Linked DNA regions of Homo sapiens. The protein of the gene in region 1 purifies or fractionates together with the protein of each later gene. This does not show direct contact. Each region holds a gene or a part of one and is shown in the gene's direction. Other genes may lie near its edges.

Region 1 (3,500 bases):
GAAATAAGTCATAGTTTTTGATGCTAGCTAAGAAACTTGAGCTTTCTGTAGATATTAAATTTCAAAAGGCAATGAATATATTCTATTTAATCCAAATACCAGGAAAAGAAGGTTTTATCCTGTATAATTCATTTTAAAATTCATTTTAAAATTCTATGTGAAAAATGTTGATACTAAAGCAATACTAAAGAATAGTTGAGAAAAATGTTTCTTTCTTTCTTTTTCCTTTTCTTTTTTTTTTTTGACAGAGTCTCACTCTGTCGCCTGGCTGGAGTACAGTGGCGCAATCTCGGCTCACTGCAACCTCTGACTCTCGGGTTCAAGTGATTCTTCTGCCTCAGCCTCCTGAGTAGCTGGGATTATAGGCACATACCACCATGCCCAGCTAATTTTTGTATTTTTAGTAGAGATGGGGTTTCACTATGTTGGCCAGGATGGTCTTGATCTCCCGACCTTGTGATCCGCCCTCCTCAGCCTCCCAAACTGCTGGGACTACAGGCGTGAGCCACCGCGCCCAGCCAAAAAACGTTTATTTCAAAGAAGAAATCTGGAGGCTCTGGGTTTTGCTCCTGTCATGTCTATTCTTTCACTTGTGCATTTCTCAACTGTTGGTCAATGTGTGTTTGCGTTGCACAATTTTCTTTCTTTGTTATTTTTACTTTTTATTTTTTCTGAGACTGGGTCTTGCTCTGTTGCCCAGGCTAGAGTGCAGTGGCGCCATCATGGCTCACTGCAGCCTCAGCCTCTAGGGTTCAAGTGAACCTCCCACCTCGGCCTCCTGGATAGCAGAGACCACAGGCACATGGTACCACACCCAGCTAATTTTTGTGTATTTTTTATAGAGATGGGGTTTTGCCATGTTGTCCAGACTGGTCTCGAGCTCCTGGGCTCAAGCAGTCCACCCATCTCAGCCTCCCAAAGTGCTAGGATTACAGGCGTGAACCATAGTGCCCAGTCTGGACAATTTTCTTATTCCCAACCTACCCTGCCTTCCCAAAAATAAGGGGCATAAAAGGTGAAACATGATAGAAAGCTTGAAGCTCGCTGCATATGAGATGGTACAGTCTCTGGCTGAGGGAAACAATGGGAATTCAGAGAAAAGGAGGTTTCCAGGAGGCTGTTTGAGATTTTGGTGGCTGACTGTATTCTGAGATTTAGAATTAAGAAGCAGATAAAGCTAACACCAAGTTTTCTAGCATGGAGACTGGCAGAACAACAGCAACATTGAAAGATATGGGGTAATTGTATTGGGTGGCTGGTGTGGGGAATTGGGAATGAGAGAATAGGTGCAATGGGTTGCATGTGATATACTGAATCTAAAGCACATTGTCTTATAGACAGTGGGAAATAGGGACTGACCAAATTTAAAATCCTGGAAGGTGTAAAACAGATTACTATTGCAAGAAATGAAGCTGGGTACTGCTAAAACTTGGCCTTCTTTCTCTAAATGCTAAGTGCTGTCTTTATTCCATTTTTTATTATATATATAGTAACCTAAATATTTCTCAAGCACCTACTGTATATCAGGCACTAGGCTACATACATGACATACTCATGTATGGTTTGACACATTCCCTGCTCTCAGGAAACACAGATTACTGTTAGAGGCAGGCATTAAATAAGCCAAAAATAATTAAATAAGACCCAATACACTGAAAGCTGTGAAGGAAAATACCAGAGTGTTGTAGGATGATACTTAATTTGAAATCAGAAGGATGGATTAGAGCCAGCCGAGTAGAGTGGGGCTGAGAATGGGAAGGGTGAAAAGTTGGGAGTACCACAGTGTCTGGTCTAAGAAGTGATTGGAGAAAAAGTCTGATAAAAAATCATGTGGAGCTTTCAGGACTTTGTAATAAGTTTGGTGGGAAGCCACTGCAGGATTCTACATACAAAGTTTAGCTGTCTGTGATTAAGGCCACAGTCAGTTCTATTTCCAGGACATCTCATTATTTACCCAGACCCACTAGGCCTGTCAATTTGGTCAGCAGCAGAAGTTTTGGGATGAAAAGACATACTATTTTCATGTTGAATATGTTTCTTGAGGTTTTTTTTTTTAGAATGAAACTGTAGAGACACAAAGTACATTTTTTTCCCTCAGATTATATTATTCCTTACCTTTATGCCATGGCACAAAATGTATTATAGTTTGACCTCATCTGAATACTTACTTGCTAATGTGCCAAAAATGTGCTGTTTGACAAAGACATACCTCCCAAATCTGATAAAATAGCTAAAGACTCTTCATCTTCAGATGAGAACCCAGCCCAAAGTTTCCCCACTGGAATCTTGATGAATGTGCTTATTTTGTTTTTGGGTAGCATTTGGGGTCACAACTGAGAAAATCTGGGACAGTTATATAGGTTGATATTACTACAAGACAGATACAAACCATGAATATTCATATTATTGTTATTTTTGCTAATATTGTACACTTATTAATTTCTAGGAACCATTTTGTTTGCATTAACTCAACTTTTTGAAAAAATCTTCTAACTTAAGAGAGTACCGTTATTATCTCCTTCGTATTAATGAGAATGCTGCTTCTCAGAGAGGTTAAGGCACCACTTAAAGGTCACATAGCCAGTAAGAGGCACAGCAGGGACTCAACCCTAGACAGTCAGTGTTAGTTGAGAACTTTTGAAGATATGCCTGTATAAAAAAAGAAGCATAATTAGTAAATATATATCTATGAATTCTGGTATGTATAATTTTAAAAACCCTCACATTGTTTATTGCAATTTTCTGGGAGTCATTTTATCATTTTAATTTTGCCATATAATAATGTAATGAATTAAAACAGCGGTTCTCCCAGGGGGAGATTCCTACCAGCACCAGGGAGCATTTGGCAATGTCTGGGAATATTTTTTGGTGATCACATCTGGGGAATGGGCATTACTAGAATCTGGGAGATAGAGGCTAAGGATGCTACTAAACATCCTACAGTGAACAAGGACAGTGCCCACAACAAATAATTATCCTGTCCAGATGGTTTATAGTGCCTAGGTTGGGATCCTGGATTAGAGTAATTTAAAGAGGATCTTGAAGGTAAGGAAAGAATGGTAGCTCCATCTTGCAAACAAGGAACATTCAATGTAAAGAAACGATTTTGGGAATATGAGAAAGAGCTAAGATGGTTTCATTCATTCAGTCATTCATAGAATCACTATTTATAGGAATGATTTCTTTGTATCAGGAATTATGCTGAACAGTAATGTTGAGGAAAACAATAGGAGGGAGTTTCTTTGGAGAAAAGGAGGGAACAAGGTAATAGAGGGAAACCAAAGATGCTTGGGTATTAAAGGTAAGCTAGGGTCAGAGTTTATTGCCAAAAGTGACTGTTTTATTTTATTAGGGAAGAAGATATGCTACTTTACCAATCTAAGGAGAGTCACTATAGTCAGAGACAAGTTCAAATGCCATATGCTACTGCCAGGAGCACCTGATAACTGTTTTTTGTCCCTTTTATGGCTGACTTATGCTGATCTGAATGGAGGGCCAGG
Region 2 (3,500 bases), on another chromosome or scaffold:
CCAGATGAAGTCTCGCTCTTGTCCCCCAGGCTGAAGTGCAATGGCGCAATCTCAGCTCACTGCAACCTCCGCCTTCCGGGTTCAAGCAGTTCTTCTGCCTCAGCCTCCCGAGTAGCTGGGATTAGAGGCGCCCGCCACCATGCCCGGCTAATTTTTGTATTTTAAATAGAGATGGGGTTCACCATTTTGGCCAGGCTAGTCTCGAACTCCTGACCTCAGGTGATCTGCCCGCTTCGGCCTCCCAAAGTGCTGGGATTACAGGCATGAGCCACTGCGCCCAGCCAGAAGACCAAGTATGCTTTTCTGGAACCCGCATTATGTAATAGAGACAGCCCATGCCATGGGCTGGGAGTTGGGCTTCTGGTCCTTGCTCTGCGCCTAACTTACCTGTCTTGATGAGTCTTTCCTACCTCCGACTCTCTTTTTTCCAGTGTAGTAGCGTGGAGTTGGACAGTATGATTTCCAGTGGTAGAAATGCATGCCTCAATCAGTGTCCTGTGTCTTTTCCAGCGAGGGGCTACGAGTATGTGTTGGAGCCCTCACCCGTCTCCCTGCCTCTGGACAGACCTCAGGAGACACGGGTGCTGCAGGTCTCCTGCGGCCGAGCTCACTCTCTTGTGTTGACTGACAGGGAAGGAGGTGAGTTGACCTATTGAAGGGTGATGGAAGAGTGCAGGGACCATTTCACTGTGAACTGGAGCCTCAAATCAGGCCTGAGTGGCTTGATCGATTGAGCCACATCTAATGAGTGAAATGTGGTATTTCCTGAGCAGATCAGTGGGATTGCTCAAGACAGCTGGACAAACCTTGTTGATTCTTTATTTATTTTTATTTATTTATTATTTTTTTGAGATGAAGTCTCGCTCTGTCGCCCAGGCTGGAGTGCAGTGGTGTAATCTCGGCTCACTGCAAGCTCCACCTCCTGGGTTCACGCCATTCTCCTGCCTCAGCCTCCTGAGTAGTAGCTGGGACTACAGGTGCCCGCCACCACATCCAGCTAATTTTTTGTATTTTTAGTAGAGACGGGGTTTCACCATGTTAGCCAGGATGGTCTCAATCTCCTGACCTCGTGATCCGCCCGCCTTAGCCTCCCAAAGTGCTGGGATTACAGGCGTGAGCCACTGCACCTGGCCACCTTGTTGATTCTTATGTGCTCTGCTCTCTGGTTCTTGGAAAATCACATGTATTTATAAATGTAACTGCACACAAGGCAGCCTGATCCATTTGCTATGAAGTCCCTGAGCTGGGTGGTGTGTAGACGTGGCTTTTTCTTTTTTTTTTTTTTGAGACAGAGTCTCGCTGTGCTGCCCAGGCTGGAGTGCACTGGTGTGATTTTGGCTCACTGCAACCTCTGCCTCCCAGGTTCAAGCAATTCTCCTGCCTCAGCCTCCCGAGTAGCTGGGATTACAGGTGCCTGCCACCACGCCTGGCTAATTTTTGTATTTTTTGTAGAGACGGGGTTTCACCACATTGGCCAGGCTGGTCTTGAACACCTGACCTCAGGTGATCCGCCCACCTCGGTCTCCCAAAGTGCTGGGATTATAGACGTGACCCACTATGCCCGGCCGGAAGTGGCTTTTTCTATTGGAATTGAAAGAAGCCTATTTGCTAACACATACTCTAAGTAGTTGGGGGCTTTCAGAGTCCGGGCCCCTGGGTAACATGGCCTCTTTTTAGAAACGGGGTTTTTCCAGGGAAAGGTCAATGTGATCACATTTTTCACATTTCATTTTTCTTTTTTTTTATCTGAGACGGAGTCTTGCTCTGCCACCCAGGCTGGAGTGCAGTGGCACGATCTCAGCTCACTGCAGCCTCTACCTCCTGGGTTCAGGTGATTCTCCTGCCTCAGTTTCCCGAGTAGCTGGGACTACAGGCACCCACCACTGTGCTTGGCTAATTTTTGTATTTTTAGTAGAGACAGGGTTTCACCATGTTTGCCAGTCTGGCCTCGAACTCCTGACCTCAAGTGATCCACCTGCCTTGGCCTCCCAAAAAGCTGAGATTACAGTCATGAGCCACTGTGCCTAGCCTCAAATTTCATTTTCTGGCTGAGTGTGCTCTGTAGGAGAAGGCGGAGGTGGCATTTAGGAGCTCTTTCTTTTTTTTTTTTTTTAATTAAAAAGTAAACGTTAATGTCGAAAATGCAAACTTGGGGAAGATGGGAAAGATCACACACAAGGCTGTCACTTCACACTTGGAAGGTTGCACAGCGGCTGGGCAGAGGTGCTTCTCACTTCCCAGATGGGGCAGTGGCCAGGCAGAAGTGCTCCCCACTTCCCAGACAGTTGACGACTGGGCAGAGGCGCTCCTCACTTCCCAGACAGGGCAGAGGCGCTGCATTTAGGGGCTCTTTCTAGAGGGGATTGGTGTTAAGGGCAGCCTGGTGACAGGTGTGGGGAGTCCGGTTCTAGCCTCAGAAGGTGGAATTCCCAAGAAGTGGATCTAGGGCCAGGAGGGGAAGGCGGGTCTAGATTCCCCCATGCCCCTTGTGAGTTTCTGCAGAGCCTGAGAAAGTTGGAGAAGGAAACCCAGGGGCAGTTGGGGGGTGGGGGTGAGTAACCAGGACGGGACCACCAGCGAGACCCCTTCCAGTCCTCACATTCTAGGATCCCACAAACCTGCAGAACTGATTTGATTGGTGGTGTTATTTTTAGTCTTCAGCATGGGAAACAATTCTTATGGGCAATGTGGAAGAAAGGTGGTCGAAAATGAAATTTACAGGTGAGTTCCTAAAAGGCCTACCCTTCCCCATGTTGAGTTAAGTGTCAAAACATTTCTAGGGAGATGACTGTGGTAAACCCGCGGGGCGGTCAGAGGCATGCCTGAGAGGGGGCCGTGAGAACTCAGCAGAAAGCTGGGGGAGTGCTGTCTGTTTCAGGTTGAGCGCCATGTGTTAGCTTGGTGGGAGAAGAGGGGGCATGAGCATTGGTTTTAATGTGTAAAACCTCCGGATAAATTTTTTTTTTTTTTTTTTGAGATGGACTCTTGCTCTGTCGCCAGGCCAGAGTGCAGAGGCGCAATCTCGGCTCACTGCAACCTCTGCCTCCCAGGTTCAAGTGATTCTCCTGCCTCAGCCTCCTGAGTAGCTGGGACTATAGGCACGTGCCAGCAGGCCCGGCTAATTTTTGTAGTTTTAGTAGAGAGGGGGTTTCACCATATTGGCCAGAATGGTTTCCATCTCTTGACCTCATGATCTGCCTGCCTTGGCCTCCCAAAGTGCTGGGATTACAGGCATGAGCCCCCACGTCCTGCCCTCTTAGGATGAATTTTTACAAATTAAGTTTTTATTTTACCAAATTGATTTTTAAACATTCCCCTTTATTCATTTTATTTTTATTTCATTTTTTTCATTTTATTTTTATTTATTTTTTGTTTGTTTGTTTGAGGTGGAGTCTCACTGTGTTACACAGGCTGGAGTGCAGTGGTGAGATCTAGGCTCACTGCAACCTCCGCCTCCCAAGTTCAAGCGATTCTCATGTATCAGCCTCCCGAATAGCTGG
Region 3 (4,206 bases), on another chromosome or scaffold:
GGCTCCTGAGTAGCTGGGATTACAGGCATGCACCACTACGCCCAGCTAATTTTTGTATTTTTAGTAGAGACGGAGTTTCACAGTTTTGGTCAGGCTGGTCTCAAACTCCCGACCTTGTGATCCGCCTGCCTTGGCCTCCCAAAGTGCTGGGATTACAGGCATGAGCCACCGCACCCGGCCATGTATCTTATTAGATTGTATTTACCTGGACTAGACAAGGAAAGAAACTCTCTGGCTGCCAACCTGCCCTTTTGCAAACCTATAGTCACAGTCCCATAAAATAGATGAAGCACAGGCACGGAAATGAAACAGCTCACCACTTATATAACATTATGTTAACTAGGTACCTTCTTCCTGTCTCTGTTCCTCATCTGTGAAATGGGTATAATGATCCTCAGCCTCATAGGGTTATTGGAAAGACTAAATGAACCCATACACCCATAAAGAACCGACCTGGCACATACTAGCATTTGATTGATTTTTTTTTTCTTATTTAAAATTTCACTTCTAAAACCCCAATAGCATTTATTAGGCAATAATCAATCACTGTACTGGAGGAGGTATGCCTGGTCCATTATATTTCCAAGCATAATTAATTGTCGTATCTGTGTTACCTCAGTACTTTGCACACAATTCTGGTATTTCACTTACCATACTAGATACTAATTATTTGTTACTAGATACTAATTATTTTTTGCTATTATTTTGATTGAGTTCCTCAAGGACTGAGATCCTGACTAATTTATTCCAGCATCTAGCACAGGACGTGGAAATCTGACTTCTAAACTCAATTTAAGAGATGATTGGCTGGGCCTGGTGGCTCACGCTTGTAATCCCAGCACTTTAGGAGGCCGAGGCGGGCGGATCACCTGAGGTCGGGAGTTCAAGACCAGCCTGACAAACATGGAGAAACCTCATCTCTAGTAAAAATATAAAAATTAGGCGGGCGTGGTGGCGGGCACCTGTAATCCCAGCTACTTGGAGACAGAATTGCTTGAACCCGAGAGGCGGAGGTGGCAGTGAGCTGAGATCGTGCCACTACACTCCAGCCTGCGCAACAGAGCGAGACTCCGTCTCAAACAAACAAAAAAGTCAGATCTGTGCTAGACGCTGAAAGGAATTAATCAGACAGGATCTCAGTCTTTTAAGAACTTTCAAATACAGAGAAGAGGTGGTAACAAATCATTAGTGTATAATATTGTAAGCGAAAAATTAGAATTGTGTGCTAAGTACTGGGGTAACACAGAGATGGTAATTAATTCTTTCTGGAGAAACAGCAGTGAATGTGACAACCTGAGTGAGGGTGGAAAGCAGGAGAATTTCTAGACTCTGAATTTCAGAAGCTTCCGGAACTAAAATGATGTGGAAGTTGAGTGAGTCTCGGTGGGATATTGCTGCTGCACCTGGTCAAGGCCGTTCCTTCAGTGTTTTCAGACGCCCTGGGAACGCGGCTGCAGGGTCCGGTCTTCGGTTTGCACAGCTAGAGGCCGCGCAGCAGCAAAGGATGAGCGGAACCTTGGAAAAGGTAACGTAGATTCCACGCACGCGGGGCGCGGGGAGATGGCGGACGGTGCAGAGAGGGGAGATGGCGGAGGGTGCAGAGCGGGGAGGTGGCGGCGCGCGGACATCCGGGGATGAGACACTGGGGCGCCCAAGGTCCTTCCCAGCAGCACATGCGGCTGCCTGGCGTTGAAGGGGCTGAGCAGATTCCTTTCCACCCGGGGCGAACTCTGCCGAGCCGACCCGTGCCACGCCCACACCACATGCCACTCTCTCCACCCAGTTTCTGGAAAAGGGAGAGCTCTGCGATGGGAATCACGACACCAGGATACGGTCCCGATTAACTGTGTGACCTTGGGCAGGTCATTTTATATTTGCATTCAGTTATCAACTTCCAGAATTTTTTCTAAGAATGCAGTTTTGACTTGCTGAACTGATGAGGATGTGAAGCTACCTGGTAATAAGGAAACAGCAGTAATAAACTAGGTTTTTGTTCTTTTCTTTCTTTTTTTTTTTTTTTTTTTTTTGACGGATTTCGCTCTGTTGCCCAGGCTGGAGTGCAGTGGTGCGATCCCGGCTCACCACAACCTTCGCCTTCCGGGTTCAAGCGATTCTCCTGCCTCAGCCTCCTCAGTAGCTGGGACTACAGGCGCGGGACACCATGCCGGGCTAATTTTTGTATTTTTAGTAGAGACGGGGTTTCACTGTGTTGGCCAGGCTGGTCTCGAATTCCTGACCACGTGATCTGCCCGCCTCGGCCTCCCAAAGTGCCGGGATTACAGGCATGAGCCACCGCGCCCTGCAATAATTAACAACATTTTCGTTTCCAAAACCTTATTTAAGTGACTGTCATAAAACCGTATGAACCACTATAAATGTGTTCCTGGGCTTTCTCCCGTTCCCTTAACAGATTTAACAGATTTCATTTGTGCTCTTTCAATTGTATCATGCTGCTTAGATTAATGACTCATTTTAGCAATTTATATTAAAATTTTGTTTTAGGCATTAATTGTGGCAACTATATTTCCATGATTCATAGGTCAGCATGGTCGTTGCAGCTCATGGGTCTACCTGTGGTTACCTTGGGGCTGCCCTTGAATGTGTGAGGGCCCACGCCTCACTTCATCCTTTATGAAACAATTCACTTGTTCACCTTAGCCAGTTTGTAAGAATTTGGCCAAATATGGTGCCAAGATAATAGAAAAAAAAATCAGAAAGTTTCAAAATTCCATTGTTAAAGATGGTCACACTGGTGACTACACTCCTTGATTTGCCTTGGTTCCAAGAAGGGCTAAAAGGGAGGGATTATTTTTCAAGGAATACTATTTCCAACCATTCGGTTCTCCATGTTTCACCATATTGCTCAGGCTGGTCTGGAACTCCTGGAAAAGAGCCCATGGAAATCTGTCATTAAGGCCAGCATCTGACATGGGTATATAAGGCCTCTCGACGTCTGATGCCACTGTTCTCTTCCCGACTCCTTAGTTGCTTTAGTCAGCTAACCTCGTCATTATTTGCCAAATGTAAGTCTGTCTCAAAGTGTTAGTTAATACTTTACATTTATAAGGAAGGTCATGGGATTTGTCAGACAGTTCTGTCTCTTGTTATGACCTTGGGCAAGTTATTTAACTTTACTGCTTCTGTTTCCTATCTGTAAAATGCAGATGATGCCCACCACATGGAATTGTAGAGACTATAGGGAATAATGTAAACAGGAATATTTTGTAAGGAATGAAGGATGATGCAAATAATAATATTGATATTGTTCTATAGTTAATAAATTTTCATTTACACAATTTCATTTGATCTTCACAATATCACGAGATAATCCTGGCAGATGCAACAGATGAGGAAATGGAAGCCTCATGTCTGGTATATAATAGAGACTTTAATGTCATACTGATGGCTTGAATGAATGACTGGAACCTAGGCTTTGTTTTTGTTTAGAGACAGGGTCTCACTTTGTCACCCAGGCTAGAGTGCAATGGTGCAGTCATAGTTTACTAAATCCTTGAACTCCTGGGTTCAAGTGATTCTTTTCACTCAGCCTCATGAGCAGCGGGGATTACAGGTGTACACCACCATGCTCAGCTAATTTTTTTTTTTTTTTTTTTTTTTTTGAGACAGAGTCTCCCTCTGTCGCCCAGGCTGGAGTGCAGTGGCGCGATCTCGGCTCACTGCAAGCTCCACCTCCCGGGTTCATGCCATTCTCCTGCCTCAGCCTCCTGAGTAGCTGGGACTACAGGTGCCCACCACCATGCCCGGCTAATTTTTTGTATTTTTAATAGAGACGGGGTTTCACCATGTTAGCCAGGATGGTCTCTATCTCCTGACCTCGTGATCCGGATCCGCCCACCTCAGCCTCCCAAAGTGTTGGGATTACAGGTGTGAGCCACCGCACCCGGCCTTTTTTTTTTTTTTTTTTTTTTTTTTTTGAGACAGCGTTTCGCTTTGTCACCCAGGCTGGAGTGCAGTGGCCCGACCTCAGCTCACTGCAAGCTCCGCCTCCCGGGTTCACGCCATTCTTCTGCCTCAGCCTCTGGAGTAGCTGGGGCTACGGGTGCCCGCCACCACACCTGGCTAATTTTTTGTATTTTTAGTAGAGACGGGGTTTCACCGTGTTAGCTAGGATGGTCTCGATCTCCTGACCTCGTGATCTGCCCACCTTGGCCTCCCAAAGTGCTGGGATTACAGGCTTGAGCAACC
Region 4 (2,804 bases), on another chromosome or scaffold:
CCCGGTTAACGGATGCCTGGGGAACAGGATGCCAGAAATCACACATGACCTATGATGAGACAGGAAAAGACTCAATAAAATAAAGAAGGAAGGGGCCGAGTGCAGTGGCTCACGCCTGTAATCCCAGCACTTAGCGAGGCTGAGGCGGGCGGATCATGAGGTCAGGAGTTTGACACCAGCCTGCCTAACATGGTGAAATCCCATCACTACTAAAACTACAAAAATTAGCCAGGCGTGGGGGTGTGCCCCTGTAGTCCCAGCTACTTGGGTGGCTTAGGCAGGAAAATCGCCTGAACCCAGGAGGCAGAGGTTGCAGTGAGCCGAGATCTTGCCACTGCCCCCCAGCCTGGGTGACAGAGCAAGACTCTGTCACTCAAAAAGATAAAGAGGAACGGCCAGGTGCAGTGGTTCACGCCTGTAATCTCAGCACTTTGGGAGGCCAAGGCGGGGGATCACGAGGTCAGGAGCTTGAAACCATGCTCGCTAACTCGGTGAAACCCCATCTCTACTAAAAATACAAAAAATTAGCCAGGCGTGGTGGCGGGCGCCTGTAGTCCCAGCTACTTGGGAGGCTGAGGCAGGAGAATGGCGTGAACCCCGGAGGCGGAGCTTGCAGTGAGCGGAGATCGCGCCACTGCACTACAGCATGGGTGACAGAGCGAGACTCAGTATCAAAAAAAAAAAAAAAGAAAGAAAAAGAAAAGAAAAAATAAAGAGCAAGGAGAAGGATGGAAGAAGGGAAATTCAATGAGTAAAAAGCCCTGGGGCCTAGTATGTACCCAAAAAAATGAGAAGTAAAGAAAATAAGGCCATGCATGTGGTTTATGCTCATAGTCGCAGAGTTTTGGGAGGGTGAGGCAGGAGGATGGCTTGAGCCCAAGAGTTCGAGATCAGCCTGAGCAACATGGTGAAACCCAGTCTCTACAAAAATTACAAAAAAATTAGGCAGGCGTGGTGGCACGCACCTGCAGTCCCAGCTAATCAGGAGGCTGAGGTGGGAAGATTCCTTGAGCCTGGGAGGTCAAGGCTGCAGTCAGCCCCAGATCGCACCACTGCACCCCAGCCTGGGCAACAGGAGAGACCCTGTCTCAAAAATAAATAAGGAAACGCCCTGGGGCTCCAGGCCCGCCCTCTGCTCCCATCGCCCCACCCCTGCACTCCTCCTGCTCCTAGTCTGAGCTCCCCTGCCCTCCTCCTCCTCCTTCCCCAGGTGGATCCTGAGACCCATTGTCATGCAGAAAGGTGCTTCCTCTCTTGGTTCTGTGACGACATACTGTCTCCTAACACAAACTACGAGGTCACCTGGTACACATCTTGGAGCCCTTGCCCAGAGTGTGCAGGGGAGGTGGCCGAGTTCCTGGCCAGGCACAGCAACGTGAATCTCACCATCTTCACCGCCCGCCTCTACTACTTCTGGGATACAGATTACCAGGAGGGGCTCCGCAGCCTGAGTCAGGAAGGGGCCTCCGTGGAGATCATGGGCTACAAAGGTGAGACGTTGGGGGGCTGAGGAGAGTGGGTGCGGGAGGGACAGCATGAGGGGCAGGTGTGTCTGCAATGCCGTGGGGCGGGGCAGTGTCCCGGGAAGCCTGCAGGGATGGCGCCAGTGTCCACTGCAACTGGCAGTCAGGAGACCTGGGCTTGGAGGGGAGGGCCCAGGGCTGGGAGAGAAGCCTGCTGGGCCCTCACTGCTTTCTCCTTGTTTTTTCTCAGATTTTAAATATTGTTGGGAAAACTTTGTGTACAATGATGATGAGCCATTCAAGCCTTGGAAAGGACTAAAATACAACTTTCTATTCCTGGACAGCAAGCTGCAGGAGATTCTCGAGTGAGGGGTCTCCCCGGGCCTCATGGTCTGTCTCCTCTAGCCTCCTGCTCATGTTGTGCAGGCCTCCCCTCCATCCTGGACCAGCTGTGCTTTTGCCTGGTCATCCTGAGCCCCTCCTGGCCTCAGGGCCATTCCATAGTGCTCCCCTGCCTCACCACCTCCTCTCCGCTCTCCCAGGCTCTTCCTGCAGAGGCCTCTTTCTGCCTCCATGGCTATCCATCCACCCACCAAGACCCTGTTCCCTGAGCCTGCATGCCCCTAACCTGCCTTTTCCCATCTCCCCAGCATAACCTAATATTTTTTTTTTTTTTTTGAGACGGAATTTCGCTCTGTCACCCAGACTGGAGTGCAATGGCTTGATCTTGGCTCACTGCAAACTCTGCCTACCAGGTTCAAGCGATTCTCCTGCCTCCGCCTCCCGAGTAGCTGGAATTACAGACGCCTGCCACCACGCACAGCTAACTTTTTTTTTTTTTGTATTTTTAGTAGTGACTGGGTTTCACCATGTTGGCCAGGCTGGTCTTGAACTCCTGACCTCAGGTGATCCGCCTATCTCAGCCTCCCAAAGTGCTGGGATTACAGGCGTGAGCCACTGGCCCGGCGGCACAACCAAATCTTATTAAACTCACCCTAGGCTGGCCGCGGTGACTCATGCCTATAATCCCCCAGCAATTTGGGAGGCAGAGGTGAGAGAATCGCTTGAGCCCAGGAATTCGAGACCAGCCTGGGCCACATGACAAAGCCCCATCTCTACAAAAAAATTACAAAAAAAAAAAAAACAGGTGTGGTGGCATGCACCTGTAGTTGAAGCTACTTGGAAGGATGAAGTGGGAGGATTGCTTGAGCCGGGGAGGTGGAGGCTGCAGTGAACTGAGATCACGTCACTGAACTCCAGTCTGAGCAACAGATCGAGACCCTGCCTGAAAATAAATCAATAAATAAACTCAACCGAAATGGGTATGAAAGTTGAAATGGG

Evidence for each region.
Region 2: the proteins of RBMS3 (region 1) and RCC1L purify together in Homo sapiens (affinity purification with mass spectrometry; one large-scale study listed by BioGRID and IntAct). This does not show direct contact.
Region 3: the proteins of RBMS3 (region 1) and MRPL48 purify together in Homo sapiens (affinity purification with mass spectrometry; one large-scale study listed by BioGRID and IntAct). This does not show direct contact.
Region 4: the proteins of RBMS3 (region 1) and APOBEC3F purify together in Homo sapiens (affinity purification with mass spectrometry; one large-scale study listed by BioGRID and IntAct). This does not show direct contact.

What each region holds. Positions count from the first base shown.
Region 1 is NC_000003.12:29,431,071-29,434,570, forward strand, and holds part of RBMS3 (RNA-binding motif, single-stranded-interacting protein 3), read left to right. Parts: intron 1-3,500. UniProt on the Homo sapiens protein: Binds poly(A) and poly(U) oligoribonucleotides.
Region 2 is NC_000007.14:75,063,803-75,067,302, reverse strand, and holds part of RCC1L (RCC1-like G exchanging factor-like protein), read left to right. Parts: intron 1-510; coding exon 511-639; intron 640-2,654; coding exon 2,655-2,721; intron 2,722-3,500. UniProt on the Homo sapiens protein: Guanine nucleotide exchange factor (GEF) for mitochondrial dynamin-related GTPase OPA1. Activates OPA1, by exchanging bound GDP for free GTP, and drives OPA1 and MFN1-dependent mitochondrial fusion. Plays an essential role in mitochondrial ribosome biogenesis.
Region 3 is NC_000011.10:73,786,468-73,790,673, forward strand, and holds the start of MRPL48 (large ribosomal subunit protein mL48), read left to right. Parts: upstream 1-1,406; 5' UTR 1,407-1,504; coding exon 1,505-1,525; intron 1,526-2,867; exon of another isoform or gene 2,868-3,023; intron 3,024-4,206.
Region 4 is NC_000022.11:39,050,864-39,053,667, forward strand, and holds part of APOBEC3F (DNA dC->dU-editing enzyme APOBEC-3F), read left to right. Parts: intron 1-1,210; coding exon 1,211-1,490; intron 1,491-1,713; coding exon 1,714-1,832; 3' UTR 1,833-2,804.